Linked DNA regions of Homo sapiens: region 1 is linked to region 2. A link means that fine-mapping ties the variant in region 2 to the expression of a gene that starts in the linked region. Tissue or cell type: thyroid. Region 2 holds a variant in brackets; the other region holds the start of a gene. All regions are shown on one strand. Distances are between the middles of the regions.

Region 1 (8,104 bases), 66 kb before region 2:
CTTTCAGATGACCTAACTTGAAGCCTCCAAGCCCATCAATCCTCCTTTGCTGACATTCTTCTTTTACGTACTTTCATGCATTCATTTTCTCTCTCTCAATCCTGTGACCCTGGGAGGCCATTTGTGTCTTTATATGAGCTTCCTGTCTCTGCTCCAACTCTTAGCATTGGATTAACAACCCTACTCTCAGGGAATAAGCAAGCACCTCTATTTCCAAGTTCTCAGAGGGCAGATGTCCAGCCATTCTCGGATTCCAGCGGGGAAGTGAGTCCAGCTCACCTCACTCCTGTGGCTCAATTGCTTTTATGATGCTGTCACTGACTGGGCAGCCAGGGAGTGTCCAGCAGGATGAAGGGTCCTTTGTGCTGCCCTTTCTGCAGAGGGAAGCCAGCTTTGACAAGACCCTACTGCCTTTAAAACCTCATCTTCTCTGCAGTATTGTATCATAGCCTTTTGCTAAAAAGGGAAATGAAATTACTCTTCAAGCAGAGCTGTCTGAGATATTGGATTCATTTAAACGTATTTTTCATTACTTTTCAGACTAAGCCTTCTCTTCCGTGTCTCTGCAAAGCCTGGACAAACCTATAGCAGGAGGTTTGCAAGGATTTCACACATTGCCTTAACTATTGAATCATGACTTTACAAGTCATCATTCTTTGTTGCAAATTACAAAAACCCAATTCACACGGGCTTATGTAAAGAAGAGACTCTGTTGGTTGTGAGATTCTTCCATTTTCAGGCATGGCTGGATCCAGGCTTTTAAACTTCACCTGCAGAAAGCCTTTCTCCCTGTGAGGCTTTCTCCTGACAGCTCCAGGCTCACATTCTACCAGCTCTACACATTCATCACAAAGAAAGCTTCTCTTTAATAGTGTGAGTAGGATTGCCAGATTTAGCAAATATTTGGAACACATCATTGATGATCCAAAATTCAGTTCAACTGAGGTTGTCCTTTACTGACAACCTAAGTCCCATATAGGTCCTAGGATTGAATCTGGGCAATTTGGATCCTATACCCATCCTAGACCCAATCACAGTGGTCAACAGAATGGGATATGTCAGCTGGCAGGCCAAAGTCACCTGCCTATCCCCAAAAGGAGGGGAGCACGGTCAACCCTGTAGTCCACATCCACCCATAGTGCATGTGGTAATCCACAGTACTAAAGACACTGATCCTCGAAGAAAGGGGACTGAACCCTGCAAAGGCAAAACCAACAGACGCTCACTAAGGTGACTTTGAAAGTCCCAGCCGGGTGCAGTGGCTCATGCCTGTAATCCCAGCACTGTGGGAGGCCGAGGCAGGCAGATCATGAGGTCAGGAATTCGAGACCAGCCTGGCCAATATGGTGAAACTCCATCTCTACTAAAAAAAATACAAAAATTAGCCCAGCATGGTGGTGGGCGCCTGTAGTCCCAGCTACTCTGGAGGCTGAGGCAGGAGAATCACTTGAACCCAGGAGGCAGAGGTTGCAGTGAGCTGAGATCGTGCCACTGCACTCCAGCCTGGGCAACAGAGCAAGACTTTGTCTCAAAAAAATAGAAATAAAAAAAGAAAGTCCCAGACAACAGTGAAAACTATAAAACTTCATGGTGGTTGTATGGCATTCAAGAGCTTAAAAGCACTTCCATGCCATTGTTTCCTTGTGGGTATTATAATCATTCCCTGTATTAATTTGCTAGGACTGTCCCAACAAAGTACCACAGTCTAGGTGGCTTAAACAACGGAAATTTATTTTCTCACAGTTCTGGAGGCTGGAAGTCCAAATTCAGGATGTTGGTAGGGTTGGTTTCTCATGAGGCCTCTCCCCTTGGCTTGCAGACGGCCGTCTTCTCCCTGTGTGCCCATGTGGTCTTCCCTCTGTAACTGTCCCCTCTTCGTATCAGGACACTAGTCATATTGGATTAGGGTCCACCCTATAACCTCATTTTAACTTAATCATCTCTGTCAAGTCCCTGTCTGCAAATGCAGTCCCATTTTGAGGCACTGGGGGTTAGGGCTTCAGCATATGAATTGGGGGTGCAGGGGGAATGCAAGTCAGCCCCTAGCACTCTCGCTCTCATTTTTTTCTTTTATGTAAGGAAAAGCACAGTGAGAATAGTCTTCGCTTGTTTCCAATCCCAGGGCTGATTTAGCTGTGGAACTCCACCCAGTGCTGGTCCCCGCTGTCCCCACCCCACCTCTGCAAACACGGGTGCCCACCCCCGCCAGCCGCCAGGCTCCCTGCCTAGTCCCGGCACGGGACCTTCACGGTCCCAGCACCAGGCACAGAGCAGACAACGTTCTTGAAATAAGTGTTTCGTGAAAAGAATGAAACTGAGAGGGAAAGAAAAAAAAAACTAGACAGTTTTAGGAGATTTAGCTCAAAGGAAAAGAGGACAGGCACAGAAGCTCCTGATTTGAAGCGATAAAGACTCTTTAGAACAGCAGAAATGAGGCCTATGGATGTGTAAATGAGCCCGGGGAGGAACTAAGCAGAAGGGCGAATTACAAAACAGAAAAAGACCAGACAGACTAGGGGAGAACAGTGAATATTTCAGTGTCTTCGGTTCATAAGAAATTCATGAGCAATTTTGGAAATTTTGTTGGTTTTGGTGGTGGGAGAGAATTGTAAATATGTATAATATGTAAATATCTTTTATAATAAAAGCCCATGAAGATAAATGAGCCTGTCTGCCGAAAAGCTGTGAGCCGTATAAGATGTTAATATAACTGTCGTCACTCTAGAAATTACCATAATGCTTACAGGGATTTGAAAGTTCCTGAGCTTTGGAAGGAAATGCATAAATACTAAACAGAACACACACACACACACACACACACACACACACACACACACACACATCTCTTTTTCTTTCTCTTTCTTATTTTTGTAAAAACAATTTTTATCCTTTTTTTTTTGAGGAGTCTCGCTTTGTTGCCCAGGCTGGAGTGCAGTGGCACAATCTGGGCTCACTGCAACCTCCGCCGCCCGGGTTCAAGCAATTCTCCTGCCTCAGCCTCCTGAGTAGCTGGGATTACAGGCTCCCGCCACCACGCCCGACTAATTTTTTCGTATTTTTAGTAGAGATACGGGGTTTCACCATGTTGGCCAGGCTGCTTTCGAACTCCTGACCTCAGGTGATCCGCCCACCTCGGCCTCCCACAGTGCTGGGATTACAGGCGTGAGCCACTGCGCCCAGCCCTTTCTTTCCTTCTTTCTTTTTCTTTCTTTCTCTTTCTTCCTCTCTCCCCTCCCGCCTGCCTTCCTTCCTTTTTTCCTTCTTTTTTTTCTTTCTTCTTTTTTTTTTTTTTTGTGAGGAAGGTAGCTTTAGTGAAAACAGGGTTTGGAGTTGAACCTATACGGGTTCAAATTCGACTTCCGTCCACCACCGAGACCTGCGCTCCCTGAGGGACTCGCTTTCCCATCCGCGAAACCAGGACGGCGCCGCCTACACCCCGCGGCGTTCGGGGCGGGCTGAATGGGTCGCTGAGTGGGGGCTACACCCACGCCCTTCGCTCCCCGCCCCCGGGCGGAGCGACGGCCACGGCAGTGTCCCCAAGGCACCGAAACCGAGGCGGGGGTCTCGGTCCCTCCGCGCAAGGAGGAAGGCGGACCGTACGTGGCAGGACTCACCGCCCCGCACGTGGCAGGACTCACCGCCCCGCGCCGTGTTCTCCGAGCCATGGCGCCAGCGCTGTGGCGGGCCTGCAACGGACTCATGGCCGCCTTCTTCGCGCTGGCGGCCTTGGTGCAGGTCAGGCGGCCGCGGTGGGAGGGGGACCCGCCCGGCTCCCAGCTCCGCCCCCTGGCCTAGCGGGCCGTGTAACTGACTAGCGGGCAGAGTCGCAGGGGCGCACAGTTAGTGGGGAGGACGGGACTTGGGCTTTCTGCTTGGGGAGCCCCCACTTTCTCCCCCGTCTAAGAGACGCGGATGTGTTCATGGAAGCGAGTCCCATACCAGGGCTCACACCCTGGAAGGGGCTGGTTCCGCGCGTGGAACTTCCCAGGGGACCTCAGAAGAAGCGGCCCTGGCTCCTGCGTTAACGTCCGGCCCGCGGACGACACTGAACATATCTCAGGGCCTAGGAGACGAAGCCGACCAAAACCCTTTATAGCATCATTAAACTTTTTAGTCGGCTTGGGGACCCCCTTCATAATCATTTCCCTCATTTCTTGAGACTGGTGGGGGTGGAGGGCCCTTAAAATACCCGTTCTGGGTTGGCGAGTCCTCTCCAGAGCTCCCGTGAAGGCTTTTCAAAAATGTGTGGCTGCCTGTTAAAAACATCTGTTGTGTCAGCCAGAAACCCCTTCACCCGTCCTCATCTGGACTATATCCTGTTCAGATTTTGTACCCTCGATGCCTATTGCAGTGTCTGGCACTTAACAAATTAATAAAAAATGTGCTTAAATGAATTTAAAAGGAATGGAACAGCACAGGATGTCTGCTAACACCTTGGTATTCTGGCGTTCCAGGTAAATGACCCAGATGCAGAGGTGTGGGTGGTGAGTATGAGCCGCTTCCAGGCTTTCCTCCGTTTGGAAGAATTGGGGAACGGCACAAAACACACGGTTTTATGTCTTTACCCCTCCTCCCTGCTTAATTTTCTGAGAAACTTAAAAATCAAACCCTTGGGAAGCGCTTTTTCCTAAAATATTAATAGGCAGGATCAGAGTTCTAATGTAATGTGTGTGTGAATTTCGAACTTTCTGGAAACAGGTCTTTCTGCAGTATTCCCTTTGGTTAGATGGCCCAACTGAGGACTTTCTTGAGGACCTAGAGTAGGCCTCTCAAGATCAGTTGAACAATTCCTTATGAGTTTCTAGCCAGACACTCAATGCAAACCTTTGACCGGAAAATAACAGGCTTAAGTTCTGAGGTTCTGCTAATTCAGTGACTTATATTTCTAGAAAGTATTAACTCCTGGCTGGGCAAGGTGGCTCACGCCTGCAATCTCAGCACTCTGGGAGGCCAAGGCGGGTGGATCACTTGAGGTCAGGAGTTCTAGATCAGCCTGAGCAACATGGTGAAACCCCGTCTCCACCAAAAAATACAAAAATTAGCCAGGCGTGGTGGCATGCGCCTGTAGTCCCCAGCTACTAGGGAAGCTGAAGCAGGAGACTCGCTGGAACCCAGGAGGCAGAAGTTGCAGTGTGCTGAGATCGTGCCACTGCACTCCAGTCTGGGCGACAGAGTGAGACTCCATCTCAAAAAAAAAAAAGCAAAGAAAAAAAAGAAAAAAAAAAAGCAAAGAAAAGTATTAAATCCTGTAAAACCTACAGTCTTCATATAAGCAAGGCTCTGATTTGAACCATTTGGAGGAGGGGGCCATTGTTCCATACATCTTCTAAATATCTTTTTTTTTTTTTCTTTTTGAGACGGAGTTTTGCTCTTGTTGCCCAGGCTGGAGTGCAATGGCGCAATCTAGGCTCACCGCAACCTCTACCTCCCAGGTTTGAGTGATTCTTCTGCCTCAGTGTCCCAAGTAACTGGGATTACAGGCATGCGCCACCACACCCAGCTAATTTTGTATTTTTAGTAGAGACAGGGTTTCTCCATGTTGGTCAAGCTGGTCTTGAACTCTCGACCTCAGGTGATCCACCTGCCTCAGCCTCCCAAAGTGCTGGGATTACAGACATGAGTCACCGCGCCCGGCTCTAAATATCTTTTATCTTCCAAAATATCTGAATTTTGCCCAGTTTCTCTCAATATAGATACACAAGACTGTACAGTACACCAAGGAGATGACTCTTAAGCTTTAGAATAATATTGACAGAGGAGCAACAAGGATGATGGTATCTGGAATTATAACATGAAATTCTATCCAGGTTTTGTTTTTTTAGTGCAGTAAAACCACATTCTGATATTTACTATCCAGATCAGTATGCCTCTGAATCAAATCAAACTGCCTTTGCCTTGGCACCCTGGTCCGTATCTTGAATTCCAAATATTATTTCCCTGCAGACAAGTCTCAGACATCCAGCTTAATGGTGAATTTCCAAAAGACTGCTGCGTATATTCACCTGCATGTCACACTGCTCCTCAGATATGCCCAAGGACCTACCTAGCATCTTTCCCTCCAAAATCTACTTATCCTGACTCACCCATTTCTGTTATCAGCAGAATCATTCTCTGAGTCATTCTTGTTCAGAATCTCAGTCATCTTTATCATCTCTCTGTTCCTTACCACTGCCTTGGAGAGCCCCTCAAAACACAAAATAAATTTGAGTCGGGCATGGTGGCAGGCATCCGTAGTCCCAGTTACTCAAGAGGCTGAGGCAGGAGGCTCACTTGAGCCCAGGAGTTCGAGGCCAGCCTGTGCAACATAGCGAGACCCCCCCCATCTCCAAAAAATTAATTAAACAATCGAGGTCTAATTGCTTATCTCTATAGTACCTGCACATTTTACCTTTCATTCATGCTCAGACGATATAATAGGAGGAATAGACCCCATGTCCCCATAGACATCCTCCCTCATTCACAGTTCAGCCCTCCACTACCTCCCACATGGACCCCTGGCACCTGCCTTAACATCTTCTGATATAAGCACAGAAATTGATGTGATTAGACAGCTACATTGTTTGGAAAGTCCCCATCCTTCTTATAAACCCACCCTCCCTACTTATTCCCTGCCAACAACACACACAATAGTAAGTTTGGCTAGAGCCTGCTTGTTATGAACAAGGCTTAGGAATAGGGCCTCTTTAGGGCTAGTCTTCTCATTTCCAAACACTTATCAGCAGTTCCAAAATGAAGAGCCTGACCTTATTACTGGGCACAGCTGATTGTGTATGCATTATTAGAAAACTTTCTGTGGTCTCACAGAGATGCAGTACTGGCCTGGATGGTCCATTGGGTCCAAAGCCAGCAGGGCCATCTAGCATCGTGGCTGCTCCTGCCCTACTTTTCAAAGAACATTTTCTTTTATGCAAGTGGGGAAAGGCCATTTGGGCATGAAAGTTGCTTGGGAGCGACTGGAAAGTTAGTGTGTCTTAAGACCAAAACCCTGTGCTCAGTGTTAGAGCTCAAAGATAAATGAGCTTCTGGAATAGCCTATAGTCTAGGAGGAAGGTAGATAAAATTGCAGGCAGACGTGCTAAGTGCCACAAAAGGAGAATCTACCACTTTCTCAATCACCATTGAAACTTAGAGGCAAATCATGGGGCACAGCAGCCACTGATCTCATCTTTCTTTACTTCCTGTATCTCTGAACATCTCATATATTGGGCATACATCTTAACTCATGTAATTTCCTCCCTTTTTGCTAACAGGTGGTGTACACAATCCCTGCAGTACTGACCCTGCTTGTTGGACTTAACCCTGAAGTCACAGGTATAAGCCTTGCATTCTAAATGGAGAGACAGCAAATCAGATTTCCTCATAATAATGAGGGTCTATCTGCCCAACTCCCAGGAGTAAAACGGGGCTCTCTAGGCCTTTCTTCTCATTTCTGATAATAAAAGGGGCTAATTCTAATCATCCTTACCCATCTTCAGGAAAACGTCAGAAGGATCTGCTATAAAACAGCGTCTTCTGTTTTATAGAAGTGAGAGGACAGATTCTTCTTCACTTTCTTTAAAACAGTTTCTCCTAGTGGGGCTCGAATGTTCTCAGGGGCCTTAGAATAAAGACTAATGAGTCCCACCTTAGTGGGGAAAATTCTAGTTCCCTAGATGCCTGGGCTCCTTGTATAGGCAGCTAGAACTCCGTCTGCATCTTTAAGGTAGATCAGTTAGGGCTCCTTTAGATACAAGCTAGAAAATAACTCAAATGTGCTATGAGCTGAGAAGAAAAGGTATTGGTACAGTTTACTGAAAAGGTGAAGGGTGGTGCTGGCTTCAGACTGGTGGACTCGGAACTTTACCTTCTCTCCACCTCTCAGTTCCACCATCTGTCATGCTAACTTCACTCTTGGGCTCCACACAGTGGCCCTGCAGCCCCCCATTCACATCTTCACGATGCCACGTCCAGTGGAATATGGACTGTGTTTCTTCACTCTACCAAAGTCTCAGAATGCAGTTGCTGGCTCTGATTGCTTGTCCGTTTGTGCTGATCCAAATCACTGTGGCTGAGGAGATAACATGTATTGATTGACCTAGCCAAAGTCCAGTTCACTGGGAAACAT
Region 2 (8,104 bases):
ACGTTGGCCAGGCTGGTCTCAAACTCCTATCCTCAAGTGATCCATCTGCCTTGGCCTCCCAAAGTGCTGGGATTACAGGTTTGAGCCACTGCACCCGGCCTCTGATTCTTTTTTAAGGGTGCATAACATTGTCTCATGTGGATATAACATAATTTATTCAATTAGCCTCCTGTCAATAAACATAGGCTGTTTCCAATCTTTTACTATTATGAACAGTGCCACAATAAATATCGTTATGCTCACAGTATTTTAGTATTTGTGAAAATATCTCTTACCGTAGGTTCCTAGAAGTGGTTTTCCCAATGGAAGGGAAATTGCACGTATCATTTTGCTAGTTTGTTTTTCTAAATTATCCTCCGTAGCAGTTGCACAATTTTCCACCCACCAGAAAAGTGTGAGTGTGTGTGTTATGACAGCTTTGCCAACAGAATGTCTTGCCCAGCATTTGGATTTTCTCCAATGTGATTGGTTAGAAAGTGTGTTTTCAATATGCATTTTTCTTAAATAGGGAAAGGTAAGCATTTTTCATATGTTTAAAGCCCTTCTGTGTATCATTTTCTATAAACCGTCTGCTTGTTTATTTGCCATTTGTTGCTATCTGCAGGGTTTTGTTGTTTTCCTTGTCTTTTTCTTCGTAACTTCTAAGAATTATTTATGCATTAAGGAAGTTGGCCCTTTGTGATGTAAATTACAAATATTTTCTTCCATTTTATCACGTCTTTTAGTTTTGTTTTGTTTTTGTTTTTGTCTTGCTCTGTTGCCAGAGCTAGACTGCAGTGGCGTGATTGTAGCTCACTGTAGCCTTGGCCTCATGGGCTCAAGCAGTCCTCCCCCCTCAGCCTCCCAAGTAGCTGAGACTGAGACTGCAGGCATGCACCACCATGCCTGGCTAGTTTTTTAAGTTTTTTTTTTTTTTTTTTTGTAGAGACAAGGTCTCACTCTGTTGCCCACGCTGGTCCAGAACTCCTGGGCTCAAGCAATTCTCCCACCTCAGCTGGCCAAAGTGTTGGGATTACAGGCATGAGCCACTCCCAAGTAGCTGGGACTGTAGGCATGCACCACCATGCCTGCTGGTTTTTTTTTGTAGAGACAAGGTCTCACTCTGTTGCCCACGCTGGTCCGGAACTCCTGAGCTCAAGCAATTCTCCCACCTCAGCTGGCCAACGTGTTGTGATTACAAGCATAAGCCACTGTGCCTAGCCTGTCATGTCTTTTGGCTCTATTTTAATTTTCCTATAAAGATTTTTAATTGTTATGATGTTGGATTTATCTATTGTTTTTTATTTTACTGCTTTTGAGTCATGGTGGGCCTTCCCCATTTCCAGATTATAAAAGAATCTACCATGATCTAGTTTAGTGCCTGTTTCCTGGCTTTGCATTTTGATTTGATCTATTTGTTATTTAATCTGGTGTATGTGTGAGGTATGGATCCGGATTCATTTTTTTTCCAAATAGCCATCTGGTTGTCTCATCACCACTTATTAAAGAGTCCATCTTTGGTCCACTGACTTGAGATGCCATTTCAGGTATCACATTTCCATAAGTATCCGGGCCTCCTTCTGGACTCTCTATGCTGTTCCGCTGGTCAGTCTGTCTCTTCATGCATAGCACTGCCCTCTTCATTATGTAGACTTTAGAGTGTATGTTTTAGTATCTGGCAGAATGTCCTCCTGTGGCTTTTCTTTTTTCAGTATTTTCTTTACCATACATCCACAAAATTTAAAATCAAGTTTCTAGCTCCAGAAAAAGGAAGTGTTGGTATTTTTATTGGGACTGCATTACATTTATATATTAGCTTGAGGATAATTAACATCTTTATGATGGTGAATCACCCTATCCAAAGCAAGGAATATCTACTTTTGTGTCCTTCAGCAGTTTAAAGTTTTGCATATCTCCTGTTAAGTTTATTCTTAAGTATTTTATCCTCTCTATTGCTATAGAGTCTTTTCTTCCAGAACCAATTGATTATACAAACAGCTCTTCGGGTGATTCTAAGGGATAGCCAGGTTTGAAATCGCTGCTTTAAACAAAAATTCAGTGTTAAATTAAAGGTTATAGTCTGGGTTCGGTGGCTCACACCTGTAATCCCAGCACTTTGAGAGGCCAAGGCGGGCGGACTACTGGAGGTTAGGAGTTCAAGACCAGCCTGACCAACATGGTGAAACCTCATCTCTACTAAAAATACAAAAACTAGCTGGGCATGGTGGTGGGTGCCTGTAATTCCAGCTACTCGGGAGGCTGAGGCAGGAGAATCGCTTGAACCCAGGAGGCGGAGGTTCCAGTGAGCCAAGATCGTGCCACTGCACTCCAGCCTGGACGACAGAGCAAGACTCTATCTCAAAAATAAAAAAATAAAAAATAAAAATAAATGAATAAATAAAGGTTATGGCTTACATTTTAACCAACCCCTACCTCCCAAATTGGCCACCTTTCTTCTATATTTTCTATTATCATGATGCCGTTTGCTCCCAATTTCATCCCTTTGGTAACCTCACAGTGATCTTTGATCTTTCCCTTCCATGCCTGATATATAGCTGGCAGACTAATTTATCTGCTTCCTTGTCTATGTCATTGTTCAGGCCCATCCATTACTTTTAATTCCTTTCTCCAAATCCCCTGGCAAGGTCCTGGGCCATGCCTGCCTCCTTTTTTTGTCCTTGGAATCTGTCTTCACCTGTTTTGCTCAAATCATTCTTCTCGGCTTCAATCATGTTGCTCTGAGCTCCCTACCACAAGGGTCCCGTCAATCATCTGAGTTCAATGCAGCCTGCGACGGTAGCCGCCACCTGCCCCACCATAGATACGGGGTCGTCTCCTTTTTGCCAGCTGAGTGTCTTGGACCTGACTCTCATCTTGAGTCCTCTCCTTAGGTTTCCCCGTGGCTTAGGTTTCCCCGTCAACTCATTACTTGTTCATCTTTCAGCACCAGCTCTCCCTTTCACTCACAGATCGAAGTTTGACATTTTCAGGAAATTTACTCTGATTAACTTTGCAAACTTTCCAGCTTATGTCATAACTCCTGAACCGTCCATCCCCTAATCTTTTCTCATGTATTAATAGTTAGGGAGGTGGTTCTCTGCAAGGCTCTGACATCAAACCGGACTCCATTATAATCCTGGCCGGTCACTCACTAGCTACCTACCCCAAGCAAGTTTCTCTACCTGTCTCGTGCCTTGGTTTCCTCTTCTGGGATTCGTAGCTAATCATAGTGCCTCCCTCGCAGAGTTTACATGAGCATTAGATGAACCAATGCTCACAATATCTTTAGCAGAGCAGAGACGAAAATGTGCTAGCAATTTTTACTCCTGCATTAACAGTGAGTTTTTATAAGACTCTACATAACCTTCTTGAAAGCAGGCATAATATTCATTTTTATTGTATTTGCAAGGTGGGAAGCATTTTTCATACTAGACCTTTTTTTTTTTTTTTTTTTTTTTAAGACGGAGTCTCACTCTGTCACCCAGGCTGGAGTGCAATGGCACGATCTTGGCTCACTGCAACATCTGCCCCCCAGGTTCAAGCAATTCTCCTGCCTCAGCCTCCTGAGTAGCTGGGATTACAGGTGCACGCCACCACATCCAGCTAATTTTTGTATTTTTAGTAAAGACGGCATTTCACCATGTTGGTCACGCTGGTCTCGAACTCCTGATCTAAGGTGATCCACCTGTCTCGGCCTCCCAAAGTGCTGGGATTACAGGTGTGAGCCACCGCATCTGGCCATGTTAGACCTTTTTTTAAGTGTTAGTTAGTTTTTGGAATAGGTGACACATATACCAAGCACATAATTCAAAAGTTACAGAAAGGTAAATAGCAAAAAGCCAAAAGAAAGTCCCCCTCCTGTCCTGTGTCCCCCCAGCCACCCATTTCCCCTCCCAGAGGAAAGGACCCTTCGAGAAATCCATCAATGTCTGATGTCTGTCGACTTGGCTTTCCCTGTACCACAGCTTTCCAGAAGCCTTCATTTCCTGGGCCCCTGTGAGCTTTCCCACTTCTGCCTTTGGCCCTCCTGTCCCCTTGCTGAGGATGCCTTCTTGCACCCTTGACTTCTCGAGCACTCTTCCTGCTCCACAGGGCCCCACATGAAT[G/A]CCTCTTCACAGAGTGCCCTAGCATTCCCTCCCTGGGGCCACCTTGTTCCGCGAGACATTCTTTCTCCCTCATTCGAACACCATCAGCATGTGTGACTTTTTGATCCCCTCAACACTTTTGATCTTGTACCATACAGTTCATTTGGAGGAATATGTCTGCCTCTTCTCACTCTTAGAGGTGAACGCCTTCTCGAAGACAGAGACCAGGCTGTCTCCATCTGTATCTCCCTGGAAGGGCTGGGTTCTGTGTCTGGCACGTAAAATGTCCAATAAGATTTATTTTATTTTATTTTATTTCAGTTTACTTTTTTTTACTTTATTTTATTTTGAGATGGAGTCTCACTCTCTCACCCAGGCTGGAGTGCAGTGGTGTAATCTCGGCTCACTGCAACCTCTGCCTCCCAGGTTCAAGTGATTCTCCTGCCTCAGCCTCCTGAGTAGCTGGGATTACAGGAACCCACCACCACACCCGGCTAATTTTTGTGTTTTTAGCAGATACAGGGTTTCAACATGTTATCCAGGCTGGTCTTGAATTCCTTACCTCAGGTGATCCACCCACCTCAGCCTCCCAAAGTGCTGAGGTTACAGGCGTCAGCCACTGCACTCAGCCCCGATAATGTTTATATTACCGAAAAATAACTAAATAAGGTAGGAGGAATGATCAAGACTAAAAGAAACTAAAGAGACATACTCATCAAGTGTAATGCCTAAAAAAAGATTCCATCTTTACTTGGGGGTTGGGGAGAACCCAGCTATACCATTGTTGGAAGAACTGGAAAAATTTACATGCGAACTGCCTAAGACATGATATAGAATTATTACTAATTTTATTGGGTAAAACAATGGCATTTTGGAGATTGTCCTTTTTCTTAGGAGATATATACTGAATATTTAAGGGTGAATTTGCATATTGTCTACTACTTTCAAATGGCATAGCAAAATAAGACTTAGCTACAGAGAAAGAAAGAGAAGGGAGAGAGGGAGAAAGCAAACTGGCAAAGTGTTAACAGTGGTCGCATTTAGATATGGGTGTTCATTTATTACGCTTTGTACTTACCTAAATGCTTGACATTTTTCATGATAGAAAGTTGGGGACCAGACGCAGTGGCTCCTGCCTGTAATCCCAGCACTTTGGGAGGCCAAGGCGGGTGGATCATTTGAGGACAGGAATTTGAGACCAGCCTGAACAACATAGGAAAACCCGGTCTCTACTCAAAATACAAAAATTAGCCTGGCATGGGGGCACCTCCCTCTAATCCCAGCTACTTGGGAGGCTGAGGCACAAGAATCACTTGAACCTGGGAGGCCGAGGTTGTAGTGAGCCAAGATCATGGCACTGCACTCCAGCCTGGGTGACAGAGTGAGACCCTGTCTAAAAAAAAAAAAGAAAGAAAGAAAGAAAGAAAGCTGGGGAAGGTGCATAATATAGTTGAATTGAACTAAAAGGAGAGTTATGGCCTCTCTCTTCTTGAATTTCTTCTTGAGACTCTGGGCATTTTGGCTTAGGACCCCCACCCTTCACCTCAGTGCCAGGGAATGGTCTTGGCTCAGGATAACCGAGTTCCTCATTTCTAGTGACACCTAATCCCCATCACAGTGGGGCATGGAGAACGCTCTTGATCCAGGAGCCATGTGCTCTCCAAGGCTGACTTCATGCTCTGGCAGACAGCGGTCCTGGGCATGATGCTGCGAGGCTGGGAGCCCCAGCATCCGTTCTCAGGACTGAACATCAAACGGCGGCGGTGGAGAAAATAGCTGGGCAGGAAGTGACCGAGCATCGTGAAGAAGGGGGCAGCCACCTGATTCATTGCCTGCTGAGCCGGCCTGCATTCTTGAGACACAATACATATATTTTCCAGCCCATCAAGGGATAAATGCAGCTCTGCCCTGGCTGTGGGGATTATCCCTGGCTGTGTGATGGCTGAAAGAATAAGGGCTCCTTCTGTTCCCAAAAGCCAGCTAATAATATGCCACTAAGTCATCTGTCCCCTGTTCATCAGAGGATGAATTCCAAGAGAGGATCCAGTTCACTCCTGAAGCTATCTCTTGAAGCAGCAAGAGACTCTCTTCTTTAAGATTTTTCTCTTTGGATGGAATTTTTTTTTTTTTTTTTTTTTTTTTTTTTAGATGGAGTCTCAGGCTGGGTGCGGTGGCTCACACCTGTAATCCTTGCACTTTGGGAGGCTGAGGCAGGTAGATCACCTGAGGTCAGGAGTTCAAGACCAGCCTGACTAACATGGTAAAAACCCATCTTTACTAAAAATACAAAAATTAGCCAGGCATGGTGGCATATGCCTGTAGTCCCAGCTACTCGGGAGGCTAAGGCAGGAGAATTGCTTGAACCTGGGAGGTGGAGGTTGCGGTGAGCTAAGATAGCGCCATCGCACTCCAGCCTGGGCAACAAGAGTGAAACTCTGTCTCAAAAAAAAAAATAAGGAGTCTCACTCTGTTGCCCAGGCTGGAGTGCAGTGGCACAATATCGGCTTACTGCAATGTCTGCCTCCTGGGTTCAAGCAATTCTCCTGCCTCAGCCTCTCGAATAGCTGGGATTACAGGCACCCACCACCACACTCAGGTAATTTTTGTATTTTTTTTTAGTAGAGACAGGGTTTTACCATGTTAGCTAGGCTGGTCTCAAACTCCTGACCTCAAGTGATCCACCCGCCTTGGCCTCCCAAAGTGCTGGGATTATAGGCATGAGCCACCATGCCCGGCTGGATAGAATTTTTTTTTTTTCCGAGTCAGAGTCTCACTCTGTCGCCCAGCCTGGAGTGCAGTGGCATGATCTCGGCTCACTGCAAGCGCCGCCTCCCAGGTTCACACCATTCTCTTGCCTCAGCCTCCCAAGTAGCTGGGAATACAGGGACCTGCCACCATGCCAGGCTAATTTTTTTTGTATTTTTAGTAGAGACGGGGTTTCACTGTGTTAGCCAGGATGGTATCGATCTCCTGACCTCATGATCCGCCCGCCTCGGCCTCCCAAAGTGCTGGGATTACAGGCGTGAGCCACCGCGCCCGGCCAGAAACTATTTTTTAATATTACATATGTCTCTTTCTCCCTCCCCATCTCAATAAGACATATATTCAGTGTAATTTACTCAGGGTTCTCATTAAGAAAACCAGTCACACTGTGCCATAATCTGCAGGTAGAGAAGAAAACTTACACCTGGCAAACACCTGCAATGTACCAAACACAGCACGAGGCATGGTGTGTGCGATGTTGGGATATCCCGCTGAATGCACATAACTAGTCTGGGAGGCAGGTATGTCACCCCCGTTTTACAGAGGAGAAGACGAAGGCTCAAAGAAGCACACTGCCTGCCATCACGTGGTGTGCAAGCGGGCAAGCCGGGATCCACATCCAGGCCTGTAGGACTCTCAGCTCCATGCTCCTCCTGCTCCGACCTGCTGCTGTGGAAGTACATGCAGTTCTCACCTCTCCTAAAGATACGTTTCCAAATGACCAGACTTTGTGATTCCTGATATCCAGCTTTTCAACTGCTCTCCAGACTGCCGTGGGTGCTGTCCCTTCCAGCCACTGCGGGATTTCTCCTGGAGAGCTGACCTCTATCCCTGACGCTGGCCCTCTTCTCACCGCTTCCAGCAAGCTTCCTGTGGCTCCTGCCTTCGGTTTCCTCATCTGAAAAGGAGACAGTTCAGCCAAAGAGATGGTTCAGCAGGGTGTTCTTTCTCCCTCATTTGAACGCGATCAGCATGGGTGCCTTTCTGGTCCACTCAACACCTTTGATCTTGTACCACACAGTTCATCTGGGGGAACGTGTCTTCCTCTTCTCAGCCCTACAGACGAATGCCTCTTTGAAGGCAGGGACCAGGCCATCTCCATGTGGAGCACTCTGGAAGTTCTGGGTTCTGTGCCTGACACATAAAAAGTGTCCAGTGATGTCTATATTACTGAAAAATAAATACGTAAGATAGGAGGAATGATCCAGACTAAAAGAAACTGCCAAGATCTCACAGCTGAACACTCTAGGAGTCTGTGACGTTTTCTCCTAGATTCA

Evidence for each region. PIP is the estimated chance that this variant, and not a neighbour inherited with it, causes the effect.
Region 1: it holds the start of TMEM220-AS1, and the variant in region 2 is fine-mapped to the expression of TMEM220-AS1 in thyroid (GTEx, PIP 0.98).

Annotation. Positions count from the first base shown.
Region 1 is chr17:10,725,411-10,733,514 of GRCh38, reverse strand. It overlaps TMEM220-AS1 (TMEM220 antisense RNA 1), which reads right to left and starts at 3,738. Exons shown (of 4, transcript NR_073458.1): 1 at 3,615-3,738. It overlaps TMEM220 (transmembrane protein 220), which reads left to right and starts at 3,492. Exons shown (of 6, transcript NM_001004313.3): 1 at 3,492-3,735; 2 at 4,455-4,484; 3 at 7,251-7,311. The coding sequence starts at 3,664. RefSeq lists enhancers at 2,867-3,453, 3,454-4,040 and silencers at 3,434-3,673, 3,684-3,853.
Region 2 is chr17:10,659,396-10,667,499 of GRCh38, reverse strand. It overlaps a transcript of MYH3 not described here. Among named protein-coding and RNA genes, the nearest start is that of MYH3, 6.1 kb to the right of the region's middle. The variant G/A (reference allele first, on the strand shown) is at 4,086.